Linked DNA regions of Homo sapiens. The protein of the gene in region 2 interacts with the protein of the main gene of each other region in a pairwise test. Each region holds a gene or a part of one and is shown on either strand. Other genes may lie near its edges. The genes, in order: ZNF212, PTP4A1, GNL1 and CNNM1.

Region 1 (7,025 bases), on a different chromosome or scaffold from region 2:
ACCCTGTCTCAAAAAAGAAAAAGAAAGAAAGAAGCTGTTTGAATTTTGGTGTATTTCTAAAGTTTTTTTTCATCTTTTAGTTTATTTTTTTTCAACAAAAGTGAAATTATAGCGTGTATGTTCTGTTACCTATGCTTTATGCTTAGCATATTCTCTGAGACTCCTGTATCAGTGTTCATTTTTAAACCTATTTTTATTTAATGTTTTGGACTATATGATAAAAGATGTCACTTACATCTTATCTTGCTTCCACATCCCTGCCAGACTTCATAGTTGATCATGTCACCCGTTTGAAAACTTTCAATGGCTCCCCACAATAAAGACAAAATTCCTTAGCAGGACCTACAAGACCTAATTCATTCATCTTTGCACTCTAGCAGCTGGGATGGTGAATAAATCCTTAAAAAATATTTACTGAAATGATGTGACTAAGTCTACTGACATTTTCCTTATAATTTTCACTTTAATGAGCTGTCTCTGACAGTAGGAAAATCACTGTCATAGAAGCTAAAATTACTGAAACCAACACTGGGGAAGTCTTCCCCAAGCTGTCCCCCTACTGTCTCCCTGCACGTTCACTTCAGTCCTAACCCCCTCTGCAAACTTCACTTTATTTGAATAAAGCACACACTTTATTCAAGGCTGCTTCTCTAACCACAGTGAGGCCACCAAGACCGAGACACTAGAGGAAATATCTCGGAAAGAACTGCTGGGGCCAAGGGTTGTGGTCCAGAGAACATGGGACAAAAGGAAACTGACTGGTGCAGAACTGAACATTTAAGTTTGGCCATGACCTACTCTAGTTACTCAAGTCAGTTAATTCATCATGGAACACATGAGACAAAAGCTTAAATACATCCTCCTGCAAGAGATTAAAAGAAAAGTTCAATGTAAAAGACAAATACAAGCGAAACAAAACAAAATATTAAACTGGATATATGCATGCCATCATGTTTGTTTTGCTTCTACTTTAAGTCTGTGAGTCTCCTCTTTCTGTGGCCCAGCATTCTGTGCTCAGTAGCACTTTTTCTAGACAGGAATGTAGGTGAGAATCTGTGCAAAGGAATAAGCCCCCTCCTCTTCCACATAGTAAGAGGTTGAAAAGAATGATTAAGCTAGTTTCTTCTTGTCTTCTGTTTTGAATTATCTAGCATGATGGGAACAATTCAAATGTTCACGAACCAGTCAATGGATGAAAAAATTGTGATCCATCCAGTGTTATGGGTTGAATTGTGTCTCCTCAAAATAATACAGTAAAACCCTAATCCTCAGTACCTCAGGATGTGATCTTACTTGGAAATAAGGTACTTCCAAGGGTAATCAGGTTAAAATGAGGTCATTAGGATGGGCCTTAATCCAATGACTGATGTCCTTAAAACAGAGGACCTTTAGACGCAGACACACACACACACAGGGAGAAGATGTCTACTATGGTTTGTCCTCACCAAAACCCATGTTGAAATTGTATTTCCAATGTGGCAGTGTCGGGAGGTGAAGTCTCGTGGGAGGTGTTTGGGTCATGAGGGCATATCCCTCATAAATAAATTAATGCGCTCCCACAGGGGTGAGCTGTCATTGGCAGGAATGGATTAGTTCCCACTACAGTGGGTTGTGAAACAGTCTGACTTCTTTGGTCTCTCTCTTGCCTCCTCTGTCACCATGTGATCTCTACACACACCTGCTGCCCTTCCATTTTCTGCCATGAGTTTAAGCAGCTTGAAGCCCTCACTAGACACAGCTGCCCAATCTTGAACTTTCCAGCCACCAGAATTGTGAGCCAACTAAACCTCTTTTCTTCATGAATTACCCAGCCTCATGTATTCTGTTACACCAATACATAATGGGCCATGTCAAGATTAAGGCAGAGACTGGACTTATGCTGCCACAAACCAAGAAAACACATGGGACCACCAGAAGCTAGGAGAGAAACACAAAACTCATAAGGAACCAACCCTGCAAACATCTTGATTTCAGACTCCTAACCTCCAGAACTGTGAGACAGAATTTCTGTTATTTAAGCTTCCCAGTTTGTTACACCAGCCCTAGGAAACAGACACACTATATAAGACACTTCATTATATACCGTATTATATATTTAGTGTATTTTTCCTATATAGCTTAGAAGACTACTAAGCCTGCTACTTAGTAGTAGACTACTACTTCGACTACTAAGTCTACTACTATGTAATAAAAAGGAACCAAAATCACTGACATGTTTAACAACATGCTAAGTGACGGGAATCAGACAAAGGTCAGGCACGGTGGCTCATACCTATAATCCCAACACTTTGGGAGGCTAAGATGGATCACTTGAGCCCAGGAGTTCAAGATCAGCCTGGGCAACAAAGCAAGACCCCCACCTCCACAATTTTTTTAAAATGAGCCAGACGTGGTGGCATGTGCCTATAGTCCCAGCTACTTGGGAGGCTGAGGATGGGAGGATCACTTGAGCCCTGGAGTTCAAGGTTGCAGTGAACCATGATCACACTACTGCACTCCAGCCTGAGTGACAAAGTAAGACCACTTAAAAAAAAAAAAAAGAAGGGCCGGGCATGGTGGCTCACACCTAAAATCCCAGCACTTTGGGAGGCCGAGGCGGGCGGATCACCTGAGGTTGGGAGTTCGAGACCAGCCTGACCAACATGGAGAAACCCCATCTCTACTAAAAATACAAAATGAGCCGGGCATGGTGGCGCATGCCTGTAATACCAGCTACTCGGGAGGCTGAGGCAGGAGAATCACTTAAACCTGAGAGGCGGAGGTTGCGGTGAACCGAGATCACACCATTGTACTCCAGCCTGGGCAACAAGAGCAAAACTCCAAAAAAAAAAAAAAAAAAAAAGAATTCAGACACAAAAGGCTACATTTGTGTTTCATTTACATGTTTGGAAAAAAGCAAACTATAGGGACAGAAATCAGATCAGTGGTTGCCAAGGGCTAGGGATAGGAGAAAAATATTGATTATAGGCCAGGCACAGTGGCTCACACCTATAACCCCAGCACTTTGGGAGGCCGAGGAGGGCGGATTGATCATGAGGTCAGGAGATCAAGACCATCCTGGCTAACATGGTGAAACCCCATCTCTACTAAAAATACAAAAACAAAATTAGCCAGGTGTGGTGGCAGGTGCCTGTAGTCCCAGCTACTTGGGAGGTTGAGGCGAGAGAATGGTGTGAACCCAGCAGGCGGAGCCTGCAGTGAGCTGAGATCACGTCACTGCACTCCAGCCTGGGCAACAGAATAAGACTCCGTCTCAAAAAAAAAAAAAAAGACTGATTATAAAGGGATATGAGGGAACTTTCTTGGATGATGGAAATATTCTCTATCTTGGTAATATGCTGGCTACACATTTGTCAAAATTTGTTGAACTATCTGCCTAAAGAGTAAATTTTACTGTATGTAAATGGTATCTCAATAAACACGTCTTAGAATGTCAAAGTAGGAGAAAATGCTAGCTGTAATAAAAGATAACATAAACAAAGTCTAAAAACAAGGAGAGAATATTTGTAAACAGAATATGAAGTGGAAAAAGGTCAAGAACCCCAAAATAAAACTGCAGATTGTAAATCATTCATGGAAGCGGAAATGCAGGCAGTCAATAAACAAATGAAAACACAACCACCTTACAATCAGGAATCCAAATATAACTAAGTGAAAGCACGTTCACCCATCAGACTGACAAACATGAAACAGACACAAAGAATAACATTCAGAGCTGACTATAATGTGGTAAACTGACTCTCATAACACTCCTGGAAGGAATGAAAAATACTACACACTCTTAGGGGAAGAAAAATTTCAAGTCATTAAAAACCCTTTTACCTAGCAATCCCACTTGGGGAATCTATGGCTGGGCACAGTGGCTCGAGTCTGTAATCCCAGCACTTCGGGAGGCTTGAGGCGGGAGGACAGCTTGAGCCCAGGAGTTCAAGAACAGCCAGGGCAAGATGGTGAAATCCCATCTCTACAAAAAGACAATAAAATTAGCCAGGCATGATGACAGGTGCCTATAGTTCCAGCCACTCAGGAAGCTGAGGTGGGAAGATCACTTGAGCCCAGGGGATTGAGGCTGCAGGAAGCCATGATCACACCACTTCCCTCCAGTGACAGAGAGAGATTCTGTCTCAAATAAATAAAGACACGGTCTCACTCTGTCACCCAGGCTGGAGGGCAGTGGCACGATTATACGTCCTGGTATTACAGGCATGAGTCACCCCACCCAACAGAAAAGTGACACATTTAGGATGAATTTCAATTCATAAACATAGTATGCAAATCCTTTTTTTTTTTTTTTTTCTGAGATGGAGTCTCTCGCTCTGTCGCCCAGGCTGCAGGCTGGAGTGCAGTGGCATGATCTCAGCTTACTGCAACCTCTGTCTCAGGTTCAAGTGATTCTCCTGCCTCAGCCTCCCAAGTAGCTGGGATTACAGGTGTGTGCCACCACTCCTGGTTAATTTTTCTGTATTTTTAGTAGGGACAGGGTTTCACCATGTTGCCCAGGCGGGTCTCAAACTCCTGACCTCAAATGATCCACCTGCCTCAGCCTCCCAAAGTGCTAGGATTATAGGCATGAGCCACCATGCCCAGCCTTTTGAGACTCCATTTTTAATATCTTTCAATGTTTTAACATTTTCCCTAGGTATCTATTCCAACCATCAACTCCTGTATGACAAATAATCCCCAAATTTAGTGGCTTAAGACATCATCATCTACTTTGCATGTGAATCTGCAGTTAAAGGAGGGTGGCACATGGATGGTTCGTCTCTGCTCCACTCTCTGTCAAGTGGGGCAAATCACAGGCAGCCAGGTGCTAGAATCCCTTGAGAAATCCCAAGCCACATGAAGAGGGTGCATGAAGTGTTCTGTTCAACGGCCTTACCTACAATCTCAGTCTACACACCAGCATCAACCAATAGACATGGGAATGCACACATTTTCATTCCCAATAGGTTTTTATTTTTGCCTCCTCTCTTTTGTTTTCATTTTGTCTCTACACTTTGATATTATATACTGATAGATATATGGATTAAAAAAATCATTTCTGGCCAGGTGCAGTGGCTCACGCCCATAATTCCAGCCCTTTGGGAGGCCAAGGTGGGCGGATCATGAGGTCAGGAGATCGCGACCATCCTGGCTAACATGGTGAAACCCCATCTCTACTAAAAATACAAAAGAATTAGCCGGGCGTGGTGACGGGCTCCTGCAGTCCCAGCCACTGGGGAGGCTGAGGCAGGAGAATGGCATGAACCCGGGAGGCGGAGCTTGCAGTGAGCCGAGATCGCACCACTGCACTCCAGTCTGGGCAACAGAGAGAGACTCTGTCTCAGAAAAAAAATAAAAATAAAAATAAAAATAATCATTTCTGTACCTGTGCTTCCAATATAATATCCACTAGTCACATGTGGCTGGTTAAATAAAATTAGCCGGGCACAGTGGCTCGTGCCTGTAACCCCAACCCTTTGGGAGGCCAAGACAGCCGGATCACTTGAGGTCAGGAGTTCAAGACCAGCCTGACCAACATGATGAAACCCTGTCTCTACTAAAAATACAAAATTAGCCGGGTGTGGTGGCACATGACTGTAATCCCAGATACTCAGGAGGCTGAGGCAGAAGAATCACTTGAAACTGGGAGGCAGAGGTTGCAAGGTTGCAGTGAGCCAAGATTGCACCACTCTACTCCAGCCTGGGTGACAGAGTGAGAGTCTGTCTCAAAATAAATAAATAAAATTTAAAACTCAGTTCCTCAATCATACTAGCTAACATTTCAAGTGCTCAAAAGCCACATGTGCCTAGTGGCCACTGTATTAAACAGTGCAGAGCAGAACATTTCTATCATCTTGGGAAGTTCTACTGGATGCACTACACCCTTATAAGTCTTTTCTATTTGATAAAATACTAAGGTTGTATTAAAATCTCCTATTATAACAGTGAATCTTTCTCGCAATTCTGTCAGTTTTGTTTTATATATTTTTAGGCTATGTAATTAGGTGCATACAGGTTTAGAAATTTTGTATCTAGCTGGTAAATTGAGTCTTTTACCATTACAAAAGTAGTAGGAGCCTTCTATCTCTAAAGATACTAAATATATTTGTCAACTTTATTTTCATTAGTATTTGCTTGGCATATTTTTTCATGACCTTTTATATTCAACTGTTTCTATATCCTTATCTTTTAGTTGTATCTCTCTCTCTCTCTCTTTTTTTTTTTTTTTTTTTTTTTTTTGAGACGGAGTCTCACTCTGTCACCCAGGCTGGAGTGCAGTGGCGCAATCTTGGCTCACTGCAACCTTTGCCTCCCAGGTTCAAGTGATTTTCCTGCCTCAGCAACCTCCGCCTCCTGGGTTCACGCCAGTCTCCTGCCTCAGCCTCCCAAGAAGCTGGGACTACAGGCACCCACCATCACATCTGGCTAATTTTTTGTATTTCTAGTAGAGACGGAATTTCACTGTGTTAGCCAGGATGGTCTCAATTTCCTGACCTCATGATCCACCCAACTTTGCCTCCCAAAGTGCTGGGATTACAGGCGTGAGCCACCACGCCCAGCCGGTTGTAACTCTTTTAAACCATCTAGTTGGATTTTTCCCCCATCCTGACAATCTATGCCTTTTAACTTGAACATTTCATTCATTTACATTTATTGTAATTGTTCATTAGCTTTGATTTATTTTTACCTTTTTTGTGCTATTTATCCCATCTTTCTTCTCTACTTTCTTGTCTTCTTTTACATTAATTTTTTCTTATTCCATTATCCCCCTTTCTGATCTGTAAGTTATACGACCAATTTCGAGTTGTTTAGCAAGTATCCTAGAAATTATGGGAAACATACATAGAAGGCCCTTTAACAAAGCCCTTTAAACACTTTAGTTCTGATCATCTCTTCCTCATATTTACATCAATGCCATCATGTATTTTAATTGTTTTTAACACAACAAGAAATTGTTACGTTTTATTAAGTCACTATTTGTTTAGATTTAACCATTTCCATGCATCATCACATCTTCTCATATTTTCAGACTTTCTATTTGG
Region 2 (7,025 bases):
TACAAAATATTTGGATAAAAAGCAAATTTCATCACATCGTATAATGTACAGATAAGGTTTATAAAGTAAATTAATTTATTTTTAGCACCATATATACAATCCAAACACTGCAAATTAATTTCTTTTCAAACTCAAAAGATAGTTTTCATTAATCATGATGGCACATCCTCTCTCTCAATAAACGCAAATGCTGTTTTATGGGCTGTGTGGTAATAGTTTAACATTTAGTAATTGATTATATAAAATTATGTTCTCAAGACTAGGCTGCATTTCCTTTAAAAAAAAAACAAAACCTCAGGTTAAAAATTAGCCAAAAATTTGTGATTACTATCACAAATAATCCAAGATTTAAATAACCAAGGGCCTCCAGAGGCCCCTGTTCTTCCTTTTGCCCTGTCTAAAATCCAATGAAATATATTAAGTGTTAAACTGGTATGAAGAGGTGGAACTAAATTCTTTGAAACACAAGGTGGAGTATCACTTTTTACTTAAACTTTGAGTCCTTTACATTTATAACTGCTATTCAAAAAAAATTAGACAAAGACATCTAGATTTAGATTAACGTGATCAAAGGGATTATTGTGGATCATTAAAGGAAACTTAACATTAAGCCTTCATGTACCAAATACTAATATTTAAATTAATTTCAAAATCTATAAAGGTATGTAATTATTAATTTGCAAAGGAGAAAACTGAGGCTCAGAAGTTGCACAAAACCATGAACTAGTGGAACTGAGCTTTACAAACCAAGGCTGTCCTCTACTATACATTATTTCTCCTCAGTACACAATAATAAATTGGTTCAAAATTATCTAGACCTTTAAAAAGTATATAATGGAAAGTGCTTTTAGTATTAAAGTTTTCATGAATGACCCTAACAAATTTTGTCTAAAAGTTTACTAAAATGCTGACATCATTTATAATCCTTCATTTATTTGTAAAAAGATGAGGACACACATTAAGTGAAGTGCAATTCATTTTGTCTTCTACAAAATAAGTTAATTTTAAGCAAACCAATCTCAATGATGATAAATGCATGTCATTATTTATTTAGATGTTTCAGCTCTCGCACTAAGTTTTTACAAGCTGGTGAACACTGACAAAATTATTTCTCCCACAGAACTATAACCACACATCCCCAGACAGTATAAATATATGGTTGAACTAACATTAATACACATCACCATTTTATCAATTACATAATAAAACAAATTGTCAAGTATCCAAATATTAAGTTACACAGCTCAAAAGGCATATAAAATATTAGATGTCTGCTCAATTCATTAGCAGAAACCCATTTCTTTTTTTGCAAGAGAGGTTGGGAAGGAAAAAAAAAATCACACTTTCAAACAAAAATAAGTTGGTAAACACACTTCTGATAAGTATGGGAAAAAAATTACAAGAATTTCAGGAAGTTTATGATTACAATAACAAAGCATCTCTACCTTTTAAAAAAATATTTTACTAAATTAAAGAGCATATTCTACATGTTTGCACAAGACAAAGGCAACATTTTGCTAAAAATAATTAATAGCCCCCTCCCATTCTTTTCTCAGGCCCTCCCTGTTAAGTTGCACCTCAGAGTGCAAACATTAAATTAATGTAAGGCTTTTTTGTCTGAAGACATTAAAGACATGTGCTTCTGTACAACGTAGATTTTCAAAATGGAGGTTTTTTTAATACAGCACAAAGTGAGATACATGGAAACACGTAAAATAATCACTGTAAGACTTGGTAAAAAAAAAAAAAAATCAATGGTTAAGCAAACCTGACGTATATTGGTATGAATGTGGGAGATGTAAACATAAAGTGAGCAGGCAAATAACCATGTAGGCCCTACTTTCAATGTTTGAAATGATTGAAGGAATAAACCACATAAGGTCTAGTGTTCATAGTTCCTGGGATTTTACTTCTGTATGGTACTAAAAATATACAAGTATTGTGCTGGGTATTTTGGCACCTAATCTTCCTAAATTTCTTATGTATTGATAAGATTCTGGCATGGGAATAGATTTAACAAGTCATAACTCAATACTGCATGATTTGGGGAAAGGTCAATTGATACAAATGACAAGCACATTTTATATGCTGACAGCAAGAATCTTTTGCCAAGTATCCAAATAGGTTGACTGTAACCCAAATACAGAGGTTGCCAAATCTGTCTAGCTTGAGGCCTGGTAAAACTGCCTTTCAATACTCCTATGGAAGCTTCATTAGACTTACTAAGCCAACATGTTGGCTAATATGTATAACAAATTAGGCCCTATCTCAAGTTCCACTTCCAGTAGCATTAGGCACCCCAATTTTATTGAATGCAACAGTTGTTTCTATGACCGTTGGAATCTTTGAAACGCAGCCGCATTTTAGGACGATACTTCTCCAAATACAGAAGTTGCTTGCTGTTAAAAGCTCCACGCCGCTTTCTGGGAGGAAAAAAAAAAAAAAATGAAACAAGGCAAAAGCCCCCTACAGTAATATTTAGTGTCTTATAGACAACCATCACCTCTCTTGTGGCAATTTATCTTTTGATTAATTAGGCTGTGACCTGATGCAGAAAGGAATATGAACAGGCACATCAGTGTAAATGGAAAAAATCATAAAAAGTTAATTTTCTTTATATCTTCGTTTGAGTATTGGTTACAACAGTCGACTCACAAATCCATTTACACGTAAGTCCACGAAAAGACAAAACTAATTTATAGTGAAGTCAGAAGTTGCCTCTGGTAGCAGGGAAGATGACTACAAAAGCCACAAAGGCATGTTCTACAGCACTCAAAATATTCTATGTGTTGTATTGGATGGTTAATTTGGCTGTTATTGTCAACTGGTCTCCTTTGGAGACCTGTGCATTTTATTGTATCTTTAAATGTATCTTAATTATACCTCAATAAAAATACAAAATAACCAACATATTCAATCAAGTATTTAAAGCAAAACAATAATTCAAAAACTCTTGTTGGATTAGAATCTTAGTAATATGAGCAACTGCATGAAATGCAAAAAAGAATGTAAGATCTTGATTTCCTGGTTTTAATACTATCTCAAAAAATAATCATAATGATTAAATGGGCTATTAGACTATTAAACTCACTGACACTCAACAAGGAAATGAAAGAGAGTACAAATGAAAAGAGAATCCATTACTTACTGTCTTATGAATTGTACTGCATCTTCGTATTTCATTCCACCTTCAATTAATGCTAGGGCAACAAGTACTGGAGCTCTGGTGAGGTAAGAATTTTGATAAATAGTTTTTTCAAAATCAGATCTTTGTAAATTTATTTCTCCAAACATTCCCCAACTCAGAAGTATTATCTACCACCCTTCCTATTTAAGTAATACCTATGACAAATGTTGACTTTATATTAAAAAATTATAAGAATTTTTCAAGTTTCTGTATTTTCATTATCAATAGATTTTTACCTAGAATCAAATTGATAAATTCATTTACCTCCCAAGGCCTGCAACGCAATGAACAGCAATACAACAACCAGGTTCTTCACGAAACTTAATTTTCACAAGACTTAACCAGTCATCAACAATCTGGTTGGATGGTGGTGCACCATCATCAAAAGGCCAATCCTAAGTCAGAAGAATATTTAAACATTTTAGATCATTAATATAAACACTGTAGTAATAATTCTAAATTTCTAACATGGAAATGTTTTCAAAAGCATTCTCATTTTAATGTTTAATCAAATCTTATTAAACCCTGTTGTCTACCAAATGTGACTAAATGCTCAATCTTTACAAAAATGTTTCACAACTTCAAATCCTTGCTTAGCTTTTCACCTTTATTTAGAAATTAAGATTCTGCACAATAATATAATATTTGTTTTTAGCTTTTTGAGGTCTATTTATGACTTAAATAGATATTTATTTGAATTTACTATTTGAATAAACTTTTGTAGCACAGCACCATAAACCCATAAGAACTGTTAAATACTTACAAGAACATGGATACCTTCTTTCTCCACAAGAGTAGTGTCATAAGTTGCTTCACATACTCTTACTATTGTGGTAACTCCATACTTCTTAAGTTCCTGGATAAAACGTACATTAAAAAAATCTTAATGTTTAACCACATCACTATAACTCAACATTTTATATTCTGATCATCTCTGATCAGTAAGTATGCTGGTTAACAGAAGATCATTTAAAGAATGCTAGAATCCATTTATGTTTAACACAAAAGCAAATTTTGTTTTAAGTGACAATGCTAGAATATAAAAAGAAAAGTGAATATTAAATACCATACATATTTTTAATAAACTGGAAAAGTTTTCCTTCTTTTGTTTAAATTGTGTGCCCCCTTCATACACTGAAGTTGTTTACAGTCATGGTAATACCGGATTGGGATGAAACATTAACCAAAAGGGGCTAGCAGCAATGCAGACAAAGGTAAATGTAACTAAAGGCATTATTTATAACTAATCGGGTAATCTGACTTCACTCAATTATACTCACTCCTTAAACTTTACTGATTTACATTGAATGAAGTCTTAACTACAGTAAAAAAGCCCACATACCATTTAAAACTACAGGCTTCAAAATGCATTATTACTAATTACATATTACTAATATAATATACTATTATATACACTATATAGTATATATTAGTGTATATATAATATATAGTAATAAAAATTAAAGTACCATTAAAGTATTTCCCAGCCAGGCGTGGTGGCTCACCTGAGGTCAGGAGTTCGAGACCAGCCTGGCCAATATGGTGAAACTACATCTAAAAATACAAAAATTAGCTGGGCAAGGTGGCGTACGCCTGTAGTCTCAGCTACTTGGGAGGCTGAGGCAGGAGAATTGCTTGAACCCGGGAGGCAGAGGTTGCAGTGGGCTGAGATCATGCCACTGCACTCCAGCCTGGGTGACAGAACGAGACTCCATCTCAAAAAAAGGAAAAAAAAGTATTTCCATTATGTTCTGAGAGGCCTATTTGCTATTTCTTAACAACTGTAGGTATTTATAAAATAAAACATGTGCACATCCCGATATATTATTCAGCATTCAATTCCTTTCTCCTAGTAAAAAGAGGCAGGTAGAGTTTTGGCTACATAGCTACCATTAGGAAGGAACAGAATTTGTAGTTGAAAATTGGATTCTAAGCATCAGATGGGGTTCAAGAAAAACCAACTGGTTTATGGCATTAGTCATTAGGTTAAGCAGATATATAAAAAATCCATAAATGGCAACCTTTCCCATGTAAATTTCTTACAAGATAAGTAAGAGCTATACTGTTTTACTGTCCACATACCAATTCAAGCAAACTCAGGTACAATAACTATTAACTCAAGCACATGCCCTTCTCAAAATGTACAAATATACCTCTAACCTATAGAAGACATTGACATTTATTTCTGGGAACTGGAATTGTAGGTATATCATCTCATTTTTTCCAAAGTAGTTTTTATTTTGTTAGCTATAAGTCCCACTATTATATTGCAATCAATTTAAGCTACTAAAACATATCAAATCTTACCTCTATAAATTTGTTTAAGGTCGCATTGGTTGGATTGTGTGTAATAAGAAATCTCATGTTCTTGTATGTGACTTCCACAGGAGCTGGGCGGTTCATTCGAGCCATGTTAATTTAGTTAAAAAACACTCAATAGGGTTATGAAATAATTAAAAAAATTGAATACAGAAATGATGCAAAGAAACTGAAGTCTACTTCAATATACTCCACTTGAAATTCTCAGTGCTTTGAGTATGAAGTTGTAAGTAATGATAAGTGAAATGAACCTCCTAACAAGAAGCAGCAATTCTTCAATCCAGTAATACTGAGGCCAACAGAAAAGAAGTGCACTGAGGTTTACCCCATCCAGGTCAGAACTCTTGTAAAATGCTCTGTGGATTTCAATTCAACACTTCTGTGTCCAGGATAACCACTCTTATGGGGGCTTCTTGGTGGAGCAGTAATCAGTTTCTACAGTTCACTTGTCTGCATAGAGGTCGTGCTGTGCCTGGCAGTAATCTCCACTGCCCTTCAGAAACTCCATAAATGTGTGACCAAGAACACCACAGAATTGCTGTTTAAAAGAAAAAGACAGAAAGAGAGAATAAGTTATTTTCCAATTCAAAAGAAATACATTAGGGTTTTACACTATTTAAGTACACAACTATTTTTCTAAAGCAGGGCCTGAGCCGCTTCATCGACTTTTACTTGAATTGCAAAACTCAAGGGGTGAGTACAGATTAAATCAATCAGCATAAAACAAGCAGTCAGATAGATTAAACTGAAATCCATGATCTATTACCAAGATTCCTCAGAAAAAAAAACCAAACCCATTGTTACATTTTTGTGAAATTCATATATATATTCATATATATTCTATCTAGTTATATTCTCTGTATATATACTATCTATATATAATATATAATTATATGATTCTAATAATTATCCCTTTCGATAGTTGTTTTCTTTACATTGTAATTACATACACTTTATGTTGATTTTTCCAACTAACAAAAACATTTTTACACATTAATACAAACTCCAGATAACTCTGAAGTTATTAGTCTTGCATAATTTACTTAACTCATAAACTGAAACATCTAAGTTCTTTTCCAACTTTATGCTTTTATATCCTTTTCTTAGACTGATTTAAGTCCTATATTTAGAATCTCACTTTATCCTTAACAATCTGTTATCATTCCCATTAAACTGAAGACGAGGAAAATGAGTCTCTGAAAATCAACTTGTTATGTGAAATATCATAAGAATGTATGCTTATGAATCTAAAAAGGAAACAACTCTCATTTATAACTGTAAAGAAAATATTCATAATTTTAATAATGTTCTTTTGTATTTTAAAACCAAAATTTCACATATACAACTCAAAACTGAAATCCAACTCAGAGAAGGCGGACAAAGGGATGTTGAAGGTGGAAGTGGCAGGTCTCAAAAGCAAGGTAACTACTGTAACCAATAAATATAAACAAATATGAATGTATTTATATTTTCTCTAAGTTCCCCCTTAAGAACTAAACCATTTTTATGCCAATATCAA
Region 3 (7,880 bases), about 33 Mb from region 2:
TTGTTCAAAACCAGCACCAGGGCCAGTCCAAGTTCTCCAGTCACATACTCATAAAGTGCTGGCGGGAAATTCACAACCTAGGACAGAGTTGATAAGAGGATGGAGCAGTGAAAGTCAACCCAGAGTTCTCTGCCTCCAGCTCCCCACTCAGCAGGTGTAGCTCAGAGACAAGGCCCTGGTGGTAGCAGACTCTGGGCTAAAAACTATAAACCAGACAAACTGAAAAACAAAGACAAAACAGGGGTTAGTAATACTTCTGAGTCTCAGAGGGCTTCCTATAGGTCATGATTAGAGATGGAAATGAACCCAAAACAAGACAAGGAAACAGCATCACTTAGCACACTGAGGTAAAGGCTGGGATCGGAAACAGGGATGGGGGTTAGGGTAGAAATTAGTCTGCTTTTTTGTGTGTGCACAACTATGTAAGTGTGTACACGTGCATATATGCATGCATGCAAGTACGTGCACATGTGTGCATGTTTGTGTGTTAATGTGACTGTGAACATGTGTGCAAACATGCCTGTGTATATTGATGTGCACATGATGTACGTGTGAGTATGTGTGTGTACATATTATTAAGGACCTCCAACCTAAATGGTCCTCACAGACCTCCCTTTCTCCCACTGGAGGACAAGAGTGAAGTTGCAGAGCTAGGATTCACACAGGGCAGTCCAGCAGCAGTCTACAGCCTTAACTACTACTCTAGCATTCCAGGTGGGTTCTGTAGCAACTGATGTGGCAGTGCTAGAGAAATGAGATAAGGAAGAAAGGGCATCTTTGGGCTGGGCAGGAGGAAGTCCCCAGCTGCATTCATAGAATCCCTGGAGCTCCAACACTTGGATTTTCTATTGGTCTGTGATGAGCTAAAGGACAGGACATGGCTGTTTTGAAGAGAAGAGTGAGCTGGCCAAGGGAGGAATGACAGGCTATAAGAGAATAAAAAACTGAGTTCCTAACTGCGGACATCAGCACTAGGTAGAGATTAGAAAGACAGGAAGATAGATACCTCTCTGTCTCCCAACTCTTGCCTCTGACCTTTGCCCCTGAAAAACCTTTCTCCCTCCTCCTTGCCCACCCTTATCCCTAGTACTCACTGGATGTCGGATATCAGTGATAAGCAGGACGATGTCAGACATCTCTAACACCCGCCACAGCTGCCTCCATGTCTAAAAAGACAGGATCAGGAAGAGAAACTGAAAACAGAGTCCCTCTCCAGCCTGATCCCAAACCAATTTGACCATAGGTCACTATGCCCCACTCCTGTCCCTAGAGTACACTGTCACCTCCAGATTGTGCTCAAAGTAGCTGAGTTTCTCAGAGGAGTAAGCCCCATGAATCTTCCCAAGATAGTCTTGGAAGCTCCGTTCCTCTTGGCTCATTAGTTGCTCCTTGGACATCTCATAGCTCCAAGGAGGACGTCGAGGAAAGTCCAGAACTGGGAATTCAGGAAAAAGTCCAAGTGTGAGGAAATCTTCAGGATTCAAGAGTACATCCCAGACCCCTCCTTCCTCACAGTCGGCTTTTACCTTTCCAAACTCCTTCCCCAGCCCAATGCCTGTCTTGCTCTCACTCACCTGAGCCAGGCTGATACACCTCCCGGATGTCCAGCTCCAACAACTCAGCACTGACCGGCTGTAGAACTTGCTCCCGGGCTGCTCTCTTTCTCCTCTCTACCTCCTCCCTGCTGTCTCTCTCAAAATGCAGTCGGTATCTAAGGGAACAGGGACCGAGACATCCAGAGCAATCCTGTGGCCACAAACTCCTATTTTCTCCCCTCTTGTACAATCAACTTCGCAAACCATTCTCTCCAGAGTCGTTCAAGTCTCCTCTCTCAAGTCAGACTTCCCCCAAGTCCTTCTTTCAGGCAATACTCAGCCTTCTCCTTCTAAAAGCCCAACTCTCTCCAGCCCCTCTGGAAAGGAAGACTGTGGCCCGCTGTGGGGAGCCGAGTGGCTAGCGGAGAACTGTGGCATCCCAGGCCCACCGTCTTCACCAGTAGCAGCCCGCTTTCCCCCAAAGCTCTGACTTCCGGGTAGGCGGGAAAGCCGGGACCAGCGCCCCCTCCCACCCTCACCGATTTGGGTCGTAGCCTCGTGGACCCAGCCCCTGAGAAGGCTGCTGGTTAAGCCTGCGGATATGATGGGTCACAGACTCCCCGTCCGAGGTGTCGGTCTGTTCCTCTCGCCGCTCCCGGCTCCCGCTGCGGCTGTTGGAACTGGAGCGCAGCCCATCTTGAAGCCCTGCGGGGAGGGGCCGGTGACGCCAGTGCTGGCCAGCTCTCAGGGGCCATAAGACCCTCTCCCCCATCGGCCTGACTCCCTTTCATCCCACTCAACTTCTTCCGATGTTCAGTCCTCCCAGACACCCTATTTGGGACCCTCCCGGATGTGCGTGGGGGGAGTCACTCCTTCAGGGAGCAGTGGGGACGGCGCCCCGTGCTAGCTGGAGGGATTCCCCTCCCCCAACTCTCCATCCTTCCCCACCCCTTCCAGATGTAGGGGGGGTGGGGGATCCCCTCCGCGATAGGCCGCGAGGGTTGACGCGGTCCCACGACCCCCTCCCACGATCCCCAGAGGTGCAGCGGGCACACCCCTCCTTCCAGATGTGCGGAAGCCCGAGCCCCGCCCCCTCCTCCCGCTCCCGCACTGACCTCTCTTCCGCTCCCGTTTGTCCTGCAACTGCTTCTTCTTCTGCTTCACGCTGAATGGCTTCTTCCTCGGCATGGCCCGGACCAGTCACCTGGCCCGCCCTCCGCCGAGCTCCCGCCGCCTCAACTGACTGCCCCCCGGGGCAGCCCCCGCCGCAGGGGCCCGGGACCCTAGAGGAGGCGGGGCTAGCAGGTGACGTCAGCGGGCGGGCCCGACAGAATTACCGCCGCGGCGGCGATGGAAGGCGGACGGGGGAGATATAGTCACTTCCCTCCAGGAGCGAGGCGAGAGGATGATGCGGGGTGGGCTACTGGCACGTGAGAGCCAGTGGCACCGAGAGGGCGCCCCGGCGGCGAGGAAGGAGGCGCGCGTGGGAGGACCAGGCTAACTCCGTCACGGACGCTACCAACTCGCGTTCGGAGGAGGGGGGGCGCGTGTCATCACTACCTTGCGCTCCCGGGAGAACCTACCACTCACCTGGAGGGGGCGGCGGAGCGGAGGGCGGGGCCTACTACCTAGGGGAGAGGGGGCGTGGACACGCTGAGGCTATACTACAAAGCCCCGGGCTTGACCTTAGTGGAAAGCCGAGACTGCGTCCAGGTTGCTGGACTACACCGGGGGCACGGTCAGAGGTCTTTAGGGGAGGGCGGCGGTCTGAGAGTCCTGGGTGCCGACCTGTTGGGACCCAAATTCCTTGTGGGAACGATGATAAGGAGCAGGTTTACAGATCATAAGTGCAAAAGCGGGCGAGAAGGGAAACCCAAGCGGGACAAGGACTTTTGGGGGGAGGTCAAAGGGCACGAAGTTGTGCCTGCAGCTGTTACCATAGTAACCGAGGACCGGATGTGGCGATCTTACGGTGCGACAGTCCTCTTCTCAGGCCCTCTGGCCCGAGAGCCTGTTGACTCTGTGACACACTCTGAGGAGCTGGTTGTGGTGTTTTCCAGCGAGGGAAGAAAAGAGTAATTTTTTCAAAGCATTTATAGAAACGCAGCAAAGGGAAGGTGTGAGGTTGCCGCCATGCCTGGCAGAGACGGAGGGAGGCAGTTGGCTCCGGAATGCGGCCGCCGCAGATGTTCTCCGCAACCTTCCGGAAGTGGAATGGCGGGAGCCTCAGCATTGCTGCCCACCGACCCCCCGGAAGCGGAAACAGAATCCCCGCGTGCCCCTTCCTCACTACCCTCCAAATCCCGCTGCAGCCATTGCCGCAGACACGATGCCGAAACGAAAGAAGCAGAATCATCACCAGCCACCGACACAGCAGCAGCCCCCGCTGCCCGAGCGGGAAGAGACTGGAGATGAGGAGGATGGGAGTCCCATCGGTGAGGGGTCTGGGAGGGATGTGCACATGCCTGTCAAGCCCGTCCGGGCAAGGGGCTAGGGGCTAATAAGGTGCGAAGGAGGGGGCTGTAACGGAAGGAGGAAGGGCGCACGCGCTGGGGAGGGATGGAAGTGGGGCTCTCCCAAATGGAGCCTTGAACCAGGAGTTCTCTTACTGGAACCATCAACCTCAATACGGCCCCAGACCTTTCTGGAGAAGGCGGGGGTGGAGAGAATAAAGAGCTCTTTTGCGCAGCCGCAGAACAGTAGGGGAAAGGGGTAGTAGAGATGTTGCAGATTGCGATGACTGGGATGACAGTTTGTATCCAGACTTTGACTGAAAAGGTACAGGTGCAGCTTTCTCTAAACTAGTCCTCTGGCCAGCAGTTAAGGTGAGGGATTGGTTCATGTCTGGAGACACTTAGGTTGTTTTGGATAGCGACGGTACGGTGAAGAAAAAAAGTTGTCAGTATCTTTTCCTGCATTATCCCCTTTGATTGAATATCTACTTTTTGCAAACCCTGAAACAGCTTTGCAGAAAAAAGGGCAGATAGATGGGGTGAGAACTCCCAAGACTGCTGAAAATATACCTGACTTTACTGGTTGAATTAAGAAATAAGTAATACAAGAAAAACACCTAAGAACAGAATCATCAGTCCTTTAATCCATTCTGATGACCATATTTTCATGTCTGCTCTTAGGACCACCCAGCCTTCTGGGCCCTCCCCCCATGGCCAATGGAAAACCTGGCGACCCTAAGTCAGGTGAGGAGGAAGGGGCCCTGATCCTTGTATTAGGTCGTAGAGAAGACAGCAAGGGAGGGGATAAAACCCAGGAAGGACTTAAAAATAAAAGATCAGGGATTCCATCCCTAAATGAATGGAGAGAAGTTGTATATTTGCTGATTTAAAAACTCAATGTTGTAAAAATGTCACTTCTTCCCAAATTGATAAACAGATTTCATGCATTCCAAGTCAGAACACCCATAATGTTTTTGTGGAAATACACATTATTATAGGGAAATGCAAAATATCAAGGCGACTATCAAGACAATCTTGAAGTGGGAGGGCTTACTATGAATATCAAGATTTGTAAGCTGGGCATGGTGGCACACGCCTGTAGTCCCAGTTACTCAGGAGGCTGAGGTGCGAGGATCCTTTGAGCCCAGGAGTTTTTGAGGCCACTCTGGGCAACATAGTGAGATCCTGTCTCTAAATACAAGAAGAAAAAAAGACTTACTATAAAGCTACAATAGTTACAACGATGCAGTTTGGAAACAATGATAGACATAAGTCAATAGGACTTATGTCCCGAAGAGTCCAATAACAGGCCCATACATGTGTGGACACTTCATTTATGATGAAGATGGAACTGAAAAGTTGGTCTTTTCAATAAATGATATTGGATCAATTGGATATTCATGTGAAAAAAATGGAATTTCACCTTGCACTCATAATCATATACAAAGATCTATTTCAAATGGACTGTAGATCTAAGTATAAAAGGTAAGAGAATAATTATTCTAGAAAGTAAATGTATTTTCTAAGAGTAGCTAAGAGTTCTTAAACAGACAAGAAATGCACGTATACACACTAACCATAAAGGAAAGATTGATAAATTGAACTCCGTTAGAAAATATAAATTTGCGGCTGGGTACAGTGGCTCACGCCTGTAATCCCAGCACTTTGGGAGGCCGAGGCGGGCGAATCACGAGGTCAGCAGTTCAAGACCAGCCTGACCAACATGGTGAAACCCCTGTCTCTACTAAAAATACAAAAATTAGCCGGGCATGGTGGTGTGTGCCTGTAATCCCAGCTACTGAGGAGGCTGAGACAGGAGAATCGCTTGAACCTGGAAGGCGGAGGTTGCAGTGAGCTGAGATTGCACCACTGCACTCCAGCCTGGGGGACAGAGTGAGACTGTCTCAAAAAAAAGAAAAAACAAAATACAAACTTGCCAAATAATACCATTAAGAAATTAACAGGAAGCCATACAATAGAAGATATTTGCAATAAATATAACAAATAAAGATCCTGTATCTATAATATATAAAGAACTCTTCCAGACAAGCCATTTGAAAAATTGACAAAAACACAGGACACCTTATTAAAATGGAGATCTAAATGAACTAAAGGTCTAAATGAACAAGTACTCAATATCATTAATTGTCAAGTAAATGCAAGATAAAAATATACCACTTTGAAATTAGAACTCTTGTGTACTGCTGCTGGGATTATAAAATGGTGAAACTACTATAGAAAACAATATGAAGAGGTTCCTCTTAATTAAAAATAGAACTACCAGATGACAAAAAAATTAAAAATAGAATTACCCCAGAACTCCTGCTTCCAGGTATATATCAAAAAAAAAAAAATGGAAAGCAGGGTCTTGAGATATTTGCAGACTCATGTTCATAGCAGCAGTATTCACAATAACAAAGAGGTGGAAGCAACCCACATGTCCACTGATGGAAGGATAAATGTGGCGTGTACATACAATGGAATATTATTCAGCCTTATGAAGGAAGAAAGTGCTGTCACATACTACAACATGGATGAACTTTGAGGACTTTATGTTAAGTAAAGACATAGTGTATTATTCCACTTATCTGAGGTGTCTAAAGTCAAATTCAGGGGCTGGGCATGGTGCTTCACGCCTGTAATCCCAGCACTTTGGGAGGCCAAGGCAGGCAGATCACTTGAGGTCAGGAGTTCGAGAACAGCCTGGCCAATATGGCAAAACCCTGTCTCTACTAAAAATAGAAAAATTAGCTGGGCATGGTGGTGCACACCTGTAATCCCAGCTACTCGGGTAGCTGAGGCATGAGAATTGCTTGAACCTGGGAGGCAGAGGTTGCAGTGAGTCGAGATCACGCCACTGCACTCCAGCCTGGATGACAGAGCAAGATTGTCAAAACAAAAAATAAAAATAAAGTCAACTTCAAAGAAACAGTAGAATGATGGTTACCAGAGGCTGGGGGAAGGAAGCTGGAGGAAGGGGAGTTTTGTTTAATGGGTACAGAGTTTCAGTTTTGCAAGATAAAAAACTTTTGGAGGTCGGGCATGGTGGCTCGTGCCTGTAATCCCAGCACTTTGGGAGGCCAAGTCGGGCGGATCATGAGATCAGGAATTCAAGACCAGCCTGGCCAATATGGTAAAACTCCATCTCTACTAAAAATACAAAAATTAGCCAGGCGTGGTGGTGGGCGCCTGTAATCCCAGCTACTTGGGAGGCTGAGGCAGGAGAATCACTTGAACCCAGGAGGCAGAGGTTGCAGTGAGCCAAGATCGCGCCACTGCACTCCAGCCTGGGCGACAGAGCGAGACTCCATCTCAAAAAACAAACAAAAACTTGGAGATCTGTTTCACATCAATATGAATATATGTAACACTACTGAACTGTACACTTAAAAATAGTTAAGATGGTAATTTTTATGTGTTTTTTACCACAATAAAAACCGAACAAAACAAGGCATGATGATTCATGCCTGTAATCCCAGCACTTTAGGAGACCAAGGTGGGAGGATCACTTGAGCCCAAGAGTTCAAGACCAGCCTGGGCAGTGTGGCAAGACCCAATCTCTCATTAAATAAATAATAATAACCAAACAAAAAAATAACCACCACTTTTCACACTCACCATGGCAAAATTTAAAAACCTAACAATTCCAAGTGTTGTCAAGGCTATAGGACAACTGCTGGTGAGAGTGCAAATTGGTATAACCACTGTGAAAAAAAAGTTTGGCATTATGTATGAAACTTGAGCATAACATATACTTTATAAGCCAGTAATACCTCTACTACGTATATATTCAACAGAAATGCATACGTATGTGTAACAACATGTATAAAAATGTTTATAGTGGCATTTCTCGTTATAGCCCCAAACTGGATACCACCCACATGTCCATCAT
Region 4 (7,025 bases), on a different chromosome or scaffold from region 2:
AGACCAAAGATGGAAGAGGATATTTTTAGCTCCATAATGTCTGCCTAGCTCACCACTGTATTCCCAGAGTCTAGTGTAATGCCTGGCCCAAAGCAGGAATTCAAAAAATGTTTACTGAATGAATCAATGAATAAGCAAAGACTGAGTATGGATTGTGCAGTAGGCTGTGTTACAGCCATGCTAGTGTACAGGTGGAGCAGCCTAGCATACGTGGGTTGTGCTTTTTTGTTTGCAAAGATGGTGTTACTAGCCCAGCAAAGCTGAATTGTTTAATTGAGTTAAATGTCAGTCAGTGCTGTATTACTCAGAAGCTTTGACTTCAGAACAAAGCTTTATTCCTTTCCCCTGTTGTCTATACAGAACTCAGTGTCTCCTAAAAGCAATCCAATAATAGAGTAGTAAATTTAAGAAGTATGATAAATCTCTACGGCTCCATTTTTAAAATTAGTCTTCCCAAATTATAGCACTCAACCCTGAGGAAACTATAGCAAAAATACCACCCTATAAGAAAATCACTCTTAAGATTAGAATGGGACATTTGATTTGTGCTTGATGGCAGGACAATGGGCTTTTCCTTTTGTTTTCTTTTTAAGAATTTCATTAAGATTGTTATTATGTGCAATATATTTTTAATATGACAAAATATTGAGTTACTATTTCAGGATAGTGGGATGATTATCCTCATATGATTTTCATACTTCTTTTTTCTACTATTCTATATTTAAATTTTTTTCTGTATAAATTATAGAAACATAAACTTCAGTAAAAAATTTATAAAAGCAAAATATGACTGGGTGCAATGGCTCACACCTGTAATCCTAGCACTTTGGGAGGCCGAGGTTGGCGGATTGCCTGAGCTCAGGAGTTCGAGACCACCCCGGGCAACACGGTGAAACCTCGTCTCTACTAAAATACAAAAATTTAGCCGGGCATGGTGGCACATGCCTGTAGTCCCAGCTACTTGGGAGGCTGAGGCAGGAGAATCGCTTGAACCTGGGAGGCGAGATCACACCACTGCACTCCAGCCTGGGCGACAAAGTGAGACTCCATCTCAAAAAAAAAAAAAAAAAATGCCACCTAGTCATAGTTATTGTATCCTCCATGTTCCCATTGCATTTTTGCATTTCTAGTATAGCACTTTCATTTTAATGCTTTATGTACCAAGGTCTGTCTTACCCATATCCTGTACTTATATACTGAGACATGACTTGTAAATTCAAGGTCACTGGAAGTCATGGGAAAGGTGAGTGTCCAGCTTGCCTTCTAGCTTTGCAAAGGGAAGTGCTATTCATCCACTATGCTTTAGGCTCTTTGGGAACAGAGATTTTATCTCATACCCCTAACTCTTAGCACAGTGCTTTACATGTGAAAAGAAATTGTTGTAATAAATATTAATAGATGTACCTAAAGAAGCTGAGAAACAATAGATGCAACACTTTTCTTCTAACACTAACAAACTTATAAGTTTGATTTGTTCTGCTGCATAGTCCAAAATGATTTAATTCATTTTCTAGTGCTCTGCAGATCTCTTCCATTATATTAAAGTTTAACTCCTTAAGTCATCCATTCAGTCCTTAAACAAACATTCATTGAAAATTTACTATGTGTCATATGCATCGTTAGCTGCTGGAGCTACAAAGACAGATAAGACAGTTTTGCCCTGGAGATGCTCATTATATGGGTGGGAGGCACTTATAAACAAACACTGGTAGTACAGCTTGTTAGTTCAATGATTGAGATATGCACATAAAACAATGAAGCTGGCCAAAAAATCTATTTTTGTATTTTGGGGTTTACAGGAGAAGTCTCCCAGAGGAGGAGGCCCCTGAGCTGAGTGTCAAAGAGCTGGCAATGAATTAGTCAGGCAAAGCATATTCCTGACAGAAGTGCAATGTGAATAAAGGGACAAAGGCAAGAATAGCACAGTGCACCACAGAGTTCAGCATTGCTGGAGGGTAAAGCTGTGGCAGGGAGTGGTGAGCGATGAGGCTGGAGGGGAGGGCAAGAAGCAGGTCATGAGTGCATTGCTGGCTGCCTTACCAGCTTAGCCTCTCTCCCGTAGGCAGCGGGGAGCTGCTGAAGGGTTTTAAGCAGTGACATTACTGGAGATTATTTTAGTGGCACTAGAGAGAACGAATTTGAGGGAGACAAAAATGTGAAAAAGTGTAACTTCTTAGGAGGCATTTGCATAAATGAGTAATAGACTTGTGTTTATATTTAATAATCATAGCTAACATCTACTTAGTACTTACATGACAGGTAGTAAGTAAGCATAATGCGATAGTCTTAATATTTCACACAATCTTATGAGTAAATATTAGTATTATTTTCATTTTACAGCTAATGAAACAGACATAAACAGTTAAGTAATTTGCCCAGGGCCAGTATCAACCCAGGCATTCTAGTAAGTCTTATGTTCTTTTTTTGAGACAGGGTCTCATTCTGTTGCCACTGGAGTTCAGTGGCATGATCTTGGCTTACTGCAACCTCCCTGCCTCAGCCTCCTGAGTAACTGGAATTACAGGTGTGCACCATTACTGCCCGGCTAATTTTTGTATTTTTAGTAGAGACGGGGTTTCACTGTGTTGGCCAGGCTGGTCTCTAACTCCTGACCTCAAATGATCCACCTGTCTCGGCCTCCCAAAGTGCTCGGATTACAGGAGTGAGCTACCACGCCTGGCCAAATCTTATGTTCTTAATCACTATCCTGTTCGTTTAATTTCTGTTTCCTGTATTAGAGTGAAGCTCTATAGAGACAAGGACTATGTTGATGATGTTCTCCACTGTGCCAACACAACTATTTGTTGAATAAAATCAGTGAATAACCTAAGTGGAACAAATAGTGGATTAAATTATGTACAGATTTAAGAAATCGTCATGCACTGCTTAACTATGGAGACACTCTCTGAGAAATTCATTGCTAGGCAATTTCATGATTGTGTGAACATCATAGAATGTAGTCACACAAAACCTAGAGGATATAGTGTACTACACACATAGGCTATATGTTATAATCTATTGCTCCTAGGCTACAAACCTGTAGAGCATGTTACTGTGCCAAATACTGTAGGTAATTGTAACACAATGGTAAGTATTTGCGTATCTAAACATAGTAAAGGTAATGTGTTGCCTTAGGACGATGTTAGGTGTTATGACTGCTAGGACATCACTAGGTGACAGGAATTTTCCAGCTCCAATGTAATCTTATGGGATCACCATCATACATGCAGTCCATCATTGACCAAAATGACATGACTGCAGTTGGATGCAATATTGGCATCCAATTATTTGGCCAGCTTTGGTGATTGTTATGGACTGAATGTTTGTCTTCCCACAAAATTCATATGTTGAAGCCCTAACGACACCCAGAGAGGCCTCTAAGGAAGTATAGTAGTTAAGATTAAATGATGGCATAAGGGTGGGCCCTAATCCAACAGGATTGATGTCTTTCTAAGAAGAGAGGACCAGAGCCTCTTGCTGTCTGTGGACAGGCACTGAGGAAAGGCCATGGAGAGAAGGCACCCACATGCAAGCCAGGAAGAACGTCCTCACCAGAAACTGAGTTGGCCAAAACCTTGATCTTGGATGTCAAAGCCTTGAATTGCGAGAAAATAAATTTCTGTTGTTTAGGTCACCAGTCTATGCTATTTTCTAATGACAGCCTGTGCAGACGACAATGATTAATAGGATGAGGTGAATGCAAAGGAAAGCTTTCTAGTCTGGGAGACTAAAGGGACAAGTGGTGCCACTTACTGGGGACAGAGGCCCATGAAGAGGAAGAGGAGAGATTTGCTGGGATCAAGGAACAACATTAATTATTCCGTACTTAGGGTTCACCTCACTCAAACATAGAAATATAGAAGTTAGGTATTTAAAACCATTTATTCAATAAATGGTTATACATCCCCTAGCCATGGCGGTCACTATACTTGTCCTGAGAATACAAAATAAGTAAGATTCATTCTCTGTCCTCAAGGAACTTACAGTCCAGTGGTGAGAAATATTGTTCCCTTTTGTAAACCTCACACTCTAGTGTGAAAGACCATTTTCCTCTTCCCCACTTCTAAAGACTTGCAACTCATAAGAAGTAAAAAGATAAAATCCCATATCATCACCTGTAACTGCAGAGTTGTTTAAGATTGGACAAGAGAAGGTATATAGAAATGTTTTATCAAGTGCAATATGCATGTTAGCAATTACTGTAATTATAAAGCTACATTACTAACCTGCAGAAACTGGAGGTGAATCAGCCATGGGCAGCAATCAGAGGTGAAAAGGCTACCTTTGAACCCTGTGGGTGGCAGGAATTCCAGGATGGAGGAAGGAATAAGACAGGTGTAGCAGGGAAAGAACAGGCTTTCGGGTCCTACAGATGTAGTTCACATCACAGTTCAGTCAGTTATTAGTTATGGAAAGTTGTACAAGTCATGTTATTGATCCGAGCTTTAGTTTCTTCATCTGTAAAATGTAGTTAATGACATCTACCCAGGAGGGTTGTTCTGAGTATGTAAAGGGCCTGGCATGGTGCCTGGAAGAACTGTTGGTGCTCAATTAATGGTAACTGTGGCTCCTATTAATATCGTCATTTTCCTCTTCTACCTTCGAAGGGATTTGTTGGTGGTTACGTTACTTGAGAAGCAAGGAAGTAAGGAAAATGGAAGAGCTATTAAAGACCAGCTTTAAAAATTATTTTTTTCTTATTTATTTATTTATTTTGAGACAGAGTCTTTCTCTGTCACCCAGGCTGGAGTACAGTGGTGCGATCTCAGCTCACTGCAACCTCCGCCTCCTGTCTCAGCAATTCTCCTGTCTCAGCCTCCCAATTAGCTGGGATTACAGGTGTGTGCCACCACACCTGGCTAATTTTTGTATTTTTAGTAGAGATGGGGTTTCACCATGTTGGCCAAGCTGGTCACGAACTCCTGACCTCAGGTGATCCACCCACCTCGCCCTCCCAAAATGCTGGGATTACAGGCGTGAGCCACTGCGCCCAGCCAAAAACGTTATTTTTAAAGGTAAAGGAAAGCAGTTCAACCCAGCTTTCACCTCCTAACCTATGGTGCAAATGTATAACTCCTAAAGAAAATGACCACTATGTTATATGGCTTGCAGCCTGAGAACATCCACCTTGTTCATTATGTCTTATATTCTATCTTAAGTAGATCTACCAAACACTGTTAATAAGGGGTCTCTGAAGGCAATGCTTCTCAAACTTTAATGTTACATAGGAGCCACCTGGCAGCTTGCTAAAATGCAGATTTTCATTCAGTGGATTTAGGGTGAGGCATAAAATTCTGCATTTCTAATAAGTTCCCAGGTGAGACTCATGCTGCTGTTTCACGGACCTTACTTTGAGGAAGTAGCAAGGCTATGAAAGGAAGTGGAAATATCTTCCTTGGTATAGTATTCTCTGTAATGGCTTGCTTCTCTTTAGTGCTCTACCTAAATACAAAGTAGCTATTAATAGAACACTAAAGGAGCTTTTTTCGACCAGGTTTAGAAATTCTGCACAGGGATTCATTTCAGATCAATATCAACTTTTTGGAACAGCTTACTATTTACAAGGCAGTGTGTAAGGTGCTGGGGATATAAGAGTTGATATGACAATTCCTGCTTCGAAAGACTGCTCATTATGCCCTGTATATTGCTAACCTCCTGAGGACAGTCTTCCTGTCTCCCTTGTTGCCTAAAACTGTATAGATGTTTAAAAAATACTAAATGAGGCCAAGTGCAGTGGCTCATGCCTGTAATCTCAGCACTTTGGGAGGCCAAGGCAGGTGGATCACCTGAGGTCGGGAGTTCGAGACCAGCTTGGCCAACATGGTGAAACCCTGTCTCTACTAAAAATACAAAAATTAGCCAGGCGTGTTGGTGCACTCCTGTAATCACAGCTACTTGGGAGGCTGAGGCAGAAGAATCACTTGAACCCAGGAGACAGAGTTTGTAGTGAGCCAAGATGGCGCCACTGCATTCCAGCCTGGGCGACAGAGTGAAACTCTGTCTCAAACAAACAAACAAACAAACCTAAACAAATGAATGAATGAGTTCACAGGAGTTTCATTTAAAACATCTTCTGCCAGCACATGACAATGAGACACTATCTTAACTGCTCTGTATCTTAACTATCAGTTTTAAGAGGTGACTGAGTTAAAATGAGGCCATTAGGGTGGGCTCTAATCCAATCTGACTGGTGTCCTTGTTAGAAGAGAAAATTTGGACACACAAGGAGACACCAGGGATGCATGCATACAGAGGAAATACCATGTCAGGACACAGTTAGAAGGTGGTGACTGCAAGCCAAGGAGAGACGCCTCAGAAGGAACCAAACCTGCCAGACACCTTGATCTTGGACTGCTAGCCCCCAGATCTTTGAGGAAATAAATTTCTGTGGTTTATGCCACCCAATGCCCAGATCTAAGACCCTACTTCTGTAAGATATACAAAATGTAAGCATAATTCTAAGAGTGGATAGATGAACCTCAAGTTGCAGTGGGAACTATGAATGCAAGGATTAAGGCGAGATGGACTGAACAGGGTGAGACAGCAACCGAAAATGGACTAAAATAGCTGCCATATATACATTTCTCTCCCTTCTCATCATACCAACACAAAGTCTAGGGCTGTTCTCTCAAATCTGAGACTGAAAGTAGCTTTTAGACCTTTTTCCCCCCTTCCAGGCTACATTTTAATATTTAATATGATTTCAAAAATTGTGGCAGGAAAAAGACCCCAGATTTGTTTGTATTCAAAGTTCTAAAGATTATTTATGATGTTAAAGTAGTGAGATTGAATTTTCCCTTCCCTCCCTCCCTCCCTCCTTCCCTTCCTCTCTCTCTCTTTCTTTCTTTTTTGAGACAGGGTCTTGCTCTGTTACCCAGGCTAGAGTTCAGTGGCACAGTCATAGCTCACTGCAGCCTCGGGCTCAAATTATCATGACATTAAATTTTTGACAAAAAATTTATACAAAATGCAGTTAAATGAGAGTACTGCTAGCCATTAGGAAGCTATATCTGAAGGCTGAATCT

Evidence for each region.
Region 1: the proteins of PTP4A1 (region 2) and ZNF212 interact in a two-hybrid assay, tested with the Homo sapiens proteins (one study listed by BioGRID and IntAct).
Region 3: the proteins of PTP4A1 (region 2) and GNL1 interact in a two-hybrid assay, tested with the Homo sapiens proteins (one study listed by BioGRID and IntAct).
Region 4: the proteins of PTP4A1 (region 2) and CNNM1 interact in binary tests that used the Homo sapiens proteins (3 or more experiments, as listed by UniProt).

Annotation. Positions count from the first base shown.
Region 1 is NC_000007.14:149,242,631-149,249,655, reverse strand, and holds part of ZNF212 (zinc finger protein 212), read right to left. Parts: intron 1-7,025.
Region 2 is NC_000006.12:63,575,455-63,582,479, reverse strand, and holds part of PTP4A1 (protein tyrosine phosphatase type IVA 1), read right to left. Parts: intron 6,045-7,025; coding exon of another isoform or gene 5,949-6,044; 5' UTR 5,600-5,948; coding exon 5,495-5,599; exon of another isoform or gene 4,044-5,494; coding exon 3,951-4,043; exon of another isoform or gene 3,583-3,950; coding exon 3,452-3,582; exon of another isoform or gene 3,224-3,451; coding exon 3,149-3,223; exon of another isoform or gene 2,467-3,148; coding exon of another isoform or gene 2,424-2,466; coding exon 2,306-2,423; coding exon of another isoform or gene 2,269-2,305; 3' UTR 1-2,268. Other genes in the region: uncharacterized LOC128125822, read right to left, coding at 5,949-6,044. UniProt on the Homo sapiens protein: Protein tyrosine phosphatase which stimulates progression from G1 into S phase during mitosis. May play a role in the development and maintenance of differentiating epithelial tissues.
Region 3 is NC_000006.12:30,553,481-30,561,360, forward strand, and holds the start of GNL1 (guanine nucleotide-binding protein-like 1), read right to left. Parts: upstream 3,010-7,880; 5' UTR 2,724-3,009; coding exon 2,651-2,723; intron 2,241-2,650; coding exon 2,075-2,240; intron 1,712-2,074; coding exon 1,575-1,711; intron 1,436-1,574; coding exon 1,284-1,435; intron 1,167-1,283; coding exon 1,095-1,166; intron 78-1,094; coding exon 1-77. Other genes in the region: PRR3 (proline-rich protein 3), read left to right, coding at 3,865-3,970, 4,670-4,732. UniProt on the Homo sapiens protein: Possible regulatory or functional link with the histocompatibility cluster.
Region 4 is NC_000010.11:99,332,342-99,339,366, reverse strand, and holds part of CNNM1 (metal transporter CNNM1), read right to left. Parts: intron 1-7,025. UniProt on the Homo sapiens protein: Probable metal transporter.